Regions from separate parts of the Homo sapiens genome. Here region 1 is linked to region 2. Evidence: fine-mapped expression QTL. A gene starts in region 2. The other region holds a variant in brackets. All regions are shown on one strand. Distances are between the middles of the regions.

Region 1 (4,393 bases), 100 kb before region 2:
ATTAATGCCATTATTATGGGAGCAGGTTAATTGTCATGGGAGTGGGTTCCCCATAAATGGGTGAGTTGGCCCAATTTTCTCTCTCTTGCAAGTCTTGCAAGCTTGCTTCTTCCTTCCATTCTTCTGGTATAGGATGACACTTGACAGATGTCAGCATCATGCTCTTGGACTTCTAGCCTCCAGAACTGTGAGCCAAATACACTTTTTTTTTAATTACTCAGTCTGTGGTATTCTGTTATAGCAGTAGAAAATGGACTAAGAAAGAGTATGAGAAATGAGTGCTCTAGCTATTGTAATTGTTTGGATGAATCAGGTCCAAATCCTCTTTAATCTCAATTTTTCTTGACAGAGAACATCTGCTCTTATTGGACAATTTTTACCACCCCCGGCTCACTTGGTGCCATAGAGGGCTGCCTGTTTTGAACAATTCAACTTAGATGTATTTTCTTTTCTCTTTTTCTTTCTTTCTTTCTTTCTTTTTTTTTTTTTTTTTTTGAGACAGAGTTTCACTCTTGTCATACATGCTGGAGTGCAATGGTGAGATCTTGGCTCACTGCAACCTCCACCTCCCGGGTTCAAGAGATTCTCCTGCCTCAGCCTCCTGAGTAGCTGGGATTACCAGTGCCTGCCACCATGCTCAGTTAATTTTTGTATTTTTAGTAGAGACAGAGTTTCACCACTTTGCCCAGGCTGGTCTTGAACTCCTGATCTCAGGTTATCTTCCTGCCTCAGCCTCCAAAGTGTTGGGATTACAGTTGTGAGCCACCATGCCCAGCCTATTTTCTTTACTAGAGTTTGCATTTGACTGTACTCACATTTGGTGTCTGGACACTCCAAAATTTAATATTTATCACTTTACTTGGGGTTTGTTTTATTTTTTGCTAACTTCCAATGATTCTGTGAGTTCACTTTAATATGAACAATACAAACTGCTGCTCTAATCATTTATAAATTCAAACAATGTGATTGTGCCAGACATCGTAGATATCCTCACCATACAAGATTTATTATGTCTGGCCCTGAGTGCTTACCTGTTTTGTGGTCAAAGGTAGCACAGTAAGGTTGCCAGGATGGTGAAGTCTCCGTGTGTGGGATGAGATGGAGTTGGAAGCCTGGTATAGTGTTTCTCCCAGAAGGGAATATGAGCCTGAACAAGTAATGTCTTATCACTAAGTGTCCTCAGCAAGAGTCCTCCAGGGACTACTGTGCAAACACAGAAAAGGGAAAGTGAATCCCAAAGGTACAGGACTCTGGAAAGCCACCAAGGGGAGTAATAGCTTTATTGAGCGTTTCATTCCAGGGACGCAAAACCTTTACCTTTAAGAGTTATATCGAAACTCCCCAACCCTAGCCATTTATTTTATAAAAAGCAGTTCACTTTCACCAAATAGAGTACGAGACAGTTTACAACAGAAATCATATCACCATTTCTTCCACTTTGTTTGCTTCAAAGAGAAGCCTATCAAGGACAAGGAAGTCAGTGCTGTTACTAAATAATTTGATTTGATTTGATCTTACTTGTTAAGCAGACATGTATGAAGCAGGCATGCATGAAATCAGCTGCATTACAACCCCAGAAGTGGTTTTGCATTCACTGTATTGAAGTTCACACAAAGCACAGCATTGAACTCCCTGATCTCATCTACTTGAGACTGATACTGAGACTTCAGGTGGACCAGACACATCATATAAGGATAAAAATAAGTATCTGGCATCAATCTGGAATAGGACTGGGGTCTCTGGGTGGCTAGACTGATGCTCTCCCCATTTGGCAGCACTGCCCTCCTGTAGGGCATTATGACTGGATCACTTTTGAAAGATGTGTCAGGGGTCCTTCGGTGATGAAGGATCTTTAATAGGAATGACAAAGACTAGATACCTCATTTAGCTTCTTTAAGTGATCTCTGAGGGAAGCTAGAGAAAAGGTTCTTAAAAGCTGCCACACCTCTGTAGCCCAGAAAGGAAATTTTCATATTTACTTCTTTAGAGAAACCAACTCCAGTCATCTACAGTGCTTTCTTTCTTTCTGACCCTTGGAAAAAATGTTATTTGCCACGTTTTAGCTCATACTGCTGGCCTAAGTGATAATGAACACAAGATAATATGTGATCTCCCTGAACAGTGTCTGAGATAGTATCCACCCTCCCTTGCTTTATTTCCCCCTGAACTTTGCAGCTGATATATTGTCTTTATATGCCTCTGCTTGTTTTCTGTCTCCCAGTGGGATATAAGTGCCTCAACAGCAGGGCCCTGGTCTAGCTTATCAGCTGTTGTGTTCTCAGCATAGAACCCTGCATGGCCTGGAAATTGTTGGTTGGTTGAACAAATAAGCAAAGCAACAGACGAACAGATGAATACCTTGCACAAAGGCTAATTCTATTAAATTCTTACCAAGGAGGTCTTACCAACAACATATAGCCAAGGTCATCACATGTCATTTTGCTTAGAGTTGCAGATTCCAAGAATCTTACAAAACAAAAAACAACAACACAAAAAAACCCTTTGTTTAAGACAATCAAAGATTGCCTTTCACAAACCAGAGCTAGTATAAATGTCCTTCCTGCACC[T/C]GAGGACATTTATTTGCATGCATATAACACTGTGTAGGCCCTTTTTAGTATTGTCAGAGTGATCCTGAATCCACAGAATGACCTTCCCATGTTCTGGATTTCAAGGCTCCCCAGGAAGAGTCACTTTTATCTGGATGACAGTGTGTTCAGCGCAGTAGCATCCCAGGTTTTCCAGAAAGCCCTTCAGGAAAAACTGTTTCCATCATGTTTTAAGCAAGTGCTTTTTTAGCCATGAAATGAAGACCTACCTCATGCTCCTTCAAGTAATTGCATGTATATGGAGGAAGGAGTGGTGGTTGTTGTGATAATATATACACAGGGGAGCTCAGGGGTATCTGGACAGCCAAGCCTGGAAAGCGGTGGTTCCGTGTTGAAGGCAACTGCAACAGCAAAGTGGTGAATTTGCTCAGATAGTCTCAGTGGCTTGGCACATGCCTGCTTCTCATGCATCTCTATTAGCACTCTCTCAATTATAGATCTTTATATGGATCTTGAGATAGGTGTCTTCTATCTACCTTATAGTTTCTGCTTATTCGTTGTTTGTGTTACCACGTAACTCCAGCTCACACAGGTTTCTCATGACCCCTCCAGCCTCTACAACAGAACCTTTTCATGAAAATGCAGCGGCTCCTAGCATAACTTTGTTTCATTTTAACATTGGAAGAAAAAAATAGATTCCCATCTGGGGCCACTCTCTGTGGAGTTTACACATTCTCCGCTTGTCTGTATGGGTTTGCTCTGGATACTCGCATTTCCTCTCACATCGTGGAGTGGAACGGTGTGTTTATGTGGTCCCAGTGTGAGTGAGAGTGGGTGTGTGTGTGTGACTGTACCCTGCAATGGGATGGTGTCCTGTCCTGAGCTGGTTCTGGCCTTGAGTCCTGAGCTGCTGGGATGGGCTTCACAGCCACCCATGACCCTGAACTGGAATGAATGGGTTGGAAAATGAGTAAATGAGTAAACATAAGTCATTGCCAAAGAAAAATGTGTAAAGTATACAATAATCATACAAAGGCACAACAATAAAGGATGCAGCAATAAAGCACTCAGTGAGCCGCCATATGTGATTGTTGGTTTTTTAAGCCACGTGGTGACTGGGGGTGCTCCTTATGATTTCAGCTGTGAAAACATTTATTCCTTGATTGAAACTACCTATGGTTGCCTTCACTCACTGATTCCAGAAATTGGGTAAATAATTATCTTACCTGTTTTTATTGATCTTTCTTAAATGTATGTGTAGCTCTCATTTATTTCAAGGTTTAATATTAGAAGTATTTTCAGTCTTTTGTTAGAGGTTTGGTAATGTTTTTGTGACCAGAAAAGTCACAGAAACTTAACTCTTTTTTTATATTAATTAGCCTATGGTAAAATTGGTTTCATTATCATTTTGCTTAAAGTCAGTTTCCAAGAACCTATCCACTACATTAATTGAGGACTTACTATGTACAAACTAAAATTAAAAGGCTTAATTATTCCTCTTGAAAATAAGAAAAGAGATTTTCCTCTCTTCCTTTTTCTTTAAGCATTTACCTTAGAAAACTTCTAGTTGTAAGTATTTTCTTCTCCCTTTGAAATGTATTTAAATCCTTTTGAAGATTAGGTAGGACTTTCCTCAGCTTTGTTATCCTGGAATGTCTTTCCCAAGGACCTGGCAGCCATCTCTTTGAAATGTAAACATCAAAGGACTTAGCACCCCCATCTCCCAGTTTCTGTGTCAGGGTAGAAGTCTGACTTCAGTGAGTATCTTGCTCCAAGTTGCAAAACTGCCTCCCAATATAAGACATGAGAAGTTGGTTTCTTCCTTTGGATAAAGCCAATTAGCTAAT
Region 2 (4,393 bases):
TGAGGCAGGAGAATCACTTGAACCTGGGAGGCAGAGGTTGCAGTGAGCAGAGACTGCACCACTGCCCTCCAGCCTGGGTGACAGAGCAAGACTTCATCTCAAAAAAAAATACAATTGCAAAATACAAAAGAACCTATCAGATTACTGTTACTAGATACATCCATTCATTTCATTAATGTATGTTTATTGTGCATCTACTATGCACCAGCAACTATACTATGCCTAGGATCTGAGGCAGTGACAATATCCTTGCTATCTTCAAGCTGAATCAGGCATAATTAGATATTCAAGTGGAGATGTAAAGTGAGCATTTGACAGACTGGATTTCAGGGGATAGATCCTGGTTAAAAATATACACTTGGAAGTTATTAGTGTTTAATAATGAAATACTAAAATGTATGAGCCTGAATTGGGTCACTTTAGGTACAGTGCATGTAAATTGAGAGGAGAAGAGGCTTAATGACTAAGATCCAAGATGCTTCAGAATTTGGGGGTCAAAAAGACAAAGAGGAACAAGCAATGAGAGTGAGAAAAAGCAGCCAGTAATGCAGAAAGAGAAATAATAGAGAGTGGTGTCCGGGTTAATTTATGCTGAAAAGTCAATTCATATGACAATTGAGAATTGACCATCAGCTTAGCACCATGGAGGTCATTTGCCAAAGTGGAACAGGTTCAACATGGAATGGAAAGATTTTGGCATAAAGGGAAGAAGGAAAATAGGGTGGCAATAAGTGGAAAGGGTGTCAAGAGATATTATATATATGTATGTTTATGTGTGTGTATAATTTATATATATAAATTAAATAGAGCCAATTATATATATGATAAATAGAGCTATATATATATATAGGCTCTCTATATATAGAGCTTGGGTACAGCTTCCTATGAGGATGGAAACTTTACCCAGAGATGCAAAGGAGGAGGAAGACTGCTTCCTTCAGGCGGTTCTCTCTTAAGAGGAAAATGGTCAAACTGAGTGAGCATACCCAGTTGTATTTGCAAATTTATTAATCCAAGTCATGCAAGTCACATCAACTTCTCAGGAGCAGACTGAACAAGAGGGAAGAGAGAGGGGTTAAAGGAGGGATAAGTAGATTTCAGCGAGAGCAAAAACGTTAAAGAAATATTTCGAGAAGTCGAAAACGAAGAGAATTTTGCTGAAGAAGATTCTAAGTTCCAGAGGCTACAGTGGAAAGATGTGGGGAGTTGGAGTGGGAGACAGGTCAGACTAGAGTGTGTGTAGTTTGGGACAATGATATTTCTCCTGTAGTACTTGGAACAGGGGCTAGGTTAGATAAATATTTGTTCCTTGAGAGAAACCTGACAAGACCTGCATGGGGCTGGGGTAATACATTGGTCCACATGGACCCCTGTTTGAGTAGAAGTGTTATCTCCAATAAGGTCTAGTCTGCTTAGACCAAGGGGTCAGGAAAGGCTGACCTTGATTATCTTCTCCTTCTGTCCCTCCCTCTCCTCCACACCTGGCCCAGTAGAGGAAGGAAAACTAGATTTACAGCTGATCTTGATTATCTTCTCCTTCTCTCCCTCCCTCTCCTCCACAGCTGGCCCAGGAGAGGAAGGAAAACTAGATTTACAGCGGCCCAGCCCTTCCCCCTGAAAGCCAGAGGCACAGGTTGCTTTACTACCACCGAGACAAAAGTGATCTGTCTCCTTTATGTCATTCTAATCCTTACAGAAGAATTTGTGGCAGCAGTACGAAGACTATAGCTAGGAGGATCAGCACCTCAGAAGCTCTTTGAAAATTGCTAGAGGATGAGGGCAGTGGGCAAGAGGAAAGTTCCTCTGAGCACCTTCTGTTAAAAGGAGAAGCCAGGCCTTGGGGATGTTCCTTCAGTTTCACAAGTGGCAAGATTTTCACCTCCGGTTGGCAGCTTTCAAATCGTTTCCCATTTCTCCAACTTAGGAAGAAGCTGTGAAAACCGCAGGCAAACGGGGATGAATGATTCATTTGGTCCTGGCCATTTCCTTCATTCCTAGGGTGTCTCAATATCTCTCTACTCTGTTATTTAAGCATAATAATAATAATAATAATAATAATAATAATAATAATAATAATAATAATAAATCATCTGCTTCCCTGGGACTTTCAGCGGAGTCGTTAGGCACGTGATGAAACCTTGGTTTGCACGGGGCTCCATCCATCCATTCATCCGTGCATCCGTCCGTCCATCTGTCCATCCATTCACTAGACCACCCACCCACCTACCACCCACCCACCCATCGCACAGCCTTCCTCCCTTTCCGGCTTACACTGGGCGTTAAACTCCGGTCTCTCCAGGCCTCCGGCGCACGTACACACGCGCGGGCGAGCGGGCGGGGTGTGCGGGAGCGCGGGCTGGCCGCGCCGGGGGCAGGACTACAGCCTCCCGAGGGGCGCGAGGGCGGGAGGCCGGGGAGGCCCGGGAGGCCCGGGCGGTGTGGCGGCGGCCGAGCCGAGCCCATCCGAGCCGGCACCTTCGGACGCCCCTGTCCCACGTGACTGTCCCCTCCTCCCTCCTCCCAGTCGCGCGCACGGGCCGGGCGTCTCGACTCCCGCGCGCGCTCGGCTGGTCCCAGTCCCCGGGAGAAGAAGCGGAGGAGGGAGAGAGCCAGCGAGGCGGCCCAGGGGAGCGGGCGCGAGTGGCGGCTGCCGGAGCCGCCTGTGCACGGGCGGCGGCGAGGCGAGGGTGGCGGTCGCCTGAGCAGCTAGAGCCGGGGCGGCGCGGAATCCGCATCCGCCGCGAGTGTGATGAAGCTACCCTGCCTCGCTGCTCCGCTTGCCGCCAGCTGACACCGCCTGCACCCAGCCCGCCCGGGAGGGGAGACGCCGCGGGGCCGTGACCTTGGCGGAGGAGGTAAATAGGGAAGGCGGGCGGGGAGGAGGCAGCGCCACCCAGAGCCCTCCCGGCCCCCGGCCCGCACCCAGCCCTCGCTCTGCGCAGCGGGAGCGTCCGCGGGCGCAGGGCGGCCGCCCCCGGGAGCCCCGCGCCGGGGCTGGGCTACGGGCGCCGCGCGCACCCCGCGGTCCACGGTGCTGAAACTGCTGCCCGGCTCCGGCGGCCGCCGCGGCGCGGGGCACAGGCTCGCCTGCCATTTGCTGCTGCCGTGAGAGCGAGCAAGGGGAGCAGGGGCTTGCCTGTTTTCTCCTCTTTGGCTGGTTGCTCTGGAGGCTTCTGCAGTTAGGCTTTTACCCACGGTGACCCGGGTAAAATGGCCTGAAGGCTTGACCTCCCACTAGTTCTTGTTGCCGGGACATATTCTGGTGTCTTCTTGCAAAAATTAGGCAGGATTACCTCCGGACTTCCGAAGCGAAGTGGGGAGAAAGGAGAGCAGCCGGTGGCTGGCAGCGCAGGCAGGTGAAAGTAGGCGAAGCATATACTCCGGCTCTGTGTGGGAGACCCGGGGGAATAGAGAGGAAGCCCGTGCGCTGGAGAATGACACCGGGAATGGGCCTCTCTGATGGGCTGCAGGTGGGGACACTAGACAGATACCTAGGAGAAAGTGTGCTAACCCGCCCCCCACTCCCCCACCGCATCCCCCAGGTGTTGCCTTTCCACCCTTTGGGGAAAACATCACCAAGTTCAGATGCAAGTATTGGGAGAGAAGAGAACTCTGTACTAGGAAAATGCTACCCACGAGTTTTTAGGGTGAGCATCAAACACTTCTCAAAATGAGTATCCAGAAAATGAAGTCAGCTAAAACAATAACCAAATGGCTATTTCTACCTGGAAGATTGTAATTTCTTACAATTCCTTGAGGTTATTGTAGGTGTCAACTCACTTTTTAAAAAATCCATGTCCTGTGTCACTTTCTCCAGCCAGCCCCAGTTTGTAAGAACGCGCCATGTGGGGTGGGTGCTGTGAATGATGATGATGAATCAGGGGAGTCCCACTGGGATCTCACTGAAGTCTCTCTGACCCTTTGCAGGGCACACTGATAATTCTTGTATCTTGAGAGTGGACCAAGTTTTGGGTGACATGGCCCAGGGGAATAATTATGGGCAGACCAGCAACGGGGTGGCCGATGAATCACCCAACATGCTGGTGTACAGAAAGGTAAGAATGTCTTCAGTTTCTTGGAAAACGGGAAACTTCCGGCTTTCTCGATTTTTTTCCCCCTCTAGATCAGAGTATGTATCAACTTTGTGGCCTTGTGGATTTCCCAGATCATCAGTGATTATGTACTATATACGTGAAAGTGATCTGACATTCTCAAATGATGCATATGTGGGGAAACACACTGAAGTAAATGAGGCCTCCTCACGTGTTCCCTGCTGGTTTTGAATAGATTATTCTGTCCTGAGCAATGACAGCACGTTTGGGCATTCCAGATATTTTGGTTGTTATACACATGATTTAGTAGCATCCGTAATAATTTTAGAAGCTTTTTCTTA

Direction of the effects. Alleles are on the strand shown, and positions count from the first base shown. SD is a standard deviation of normalised expression in the study named.
In carriers of allele C in region 1, the expression in spinal cord of the gene that starts at base 2,549 in region 2 tends to be higher than with T alone (moderate effect, 0.45 SD a copy in GTEx).

The links. PIP is the estimated chance that this variant, and not a neighbour inherited with it, causes the effect.
Region 1: its variant is the best candidate, but not a certain one, in a credible set for the expression of RGS7 in spinal cord (GTEx, PIP 0.63).

Annotation. Positions count from the first base shown.
Region 1 is chr1:241,457,448-241,461,840 of GRCh38, reverse strand. No RefSeq gene overlaps it. Among named protein-coding and RNA genes, the nearest start is that of FH, 60 kb to the left of the region's middle. The variant T/C (reference allele first, on the strand shown) is at 2,568.
Region 2 is chr1:241,355,361-241,359,753 of GRCh38, reverse strand. RGS7 (regulator of G protein signaling 7) reads left to right here and starts at 2,549. Exons shown (of 19, transcript NM_001364886.1): 1 at 2,549-2,855; 2 at 3,928-4,055. The coding sequence starts at 3,978. It overlaps LOC124904601 (a long non-coding RNA gene), which reads right to left and starts at 2,502. Exons shown (of 2, transcript XR_007067052.1): 1 at 2,272-2,502; 2 at 1-1,931. RefSeq lists a silencer at 2,648-2,697.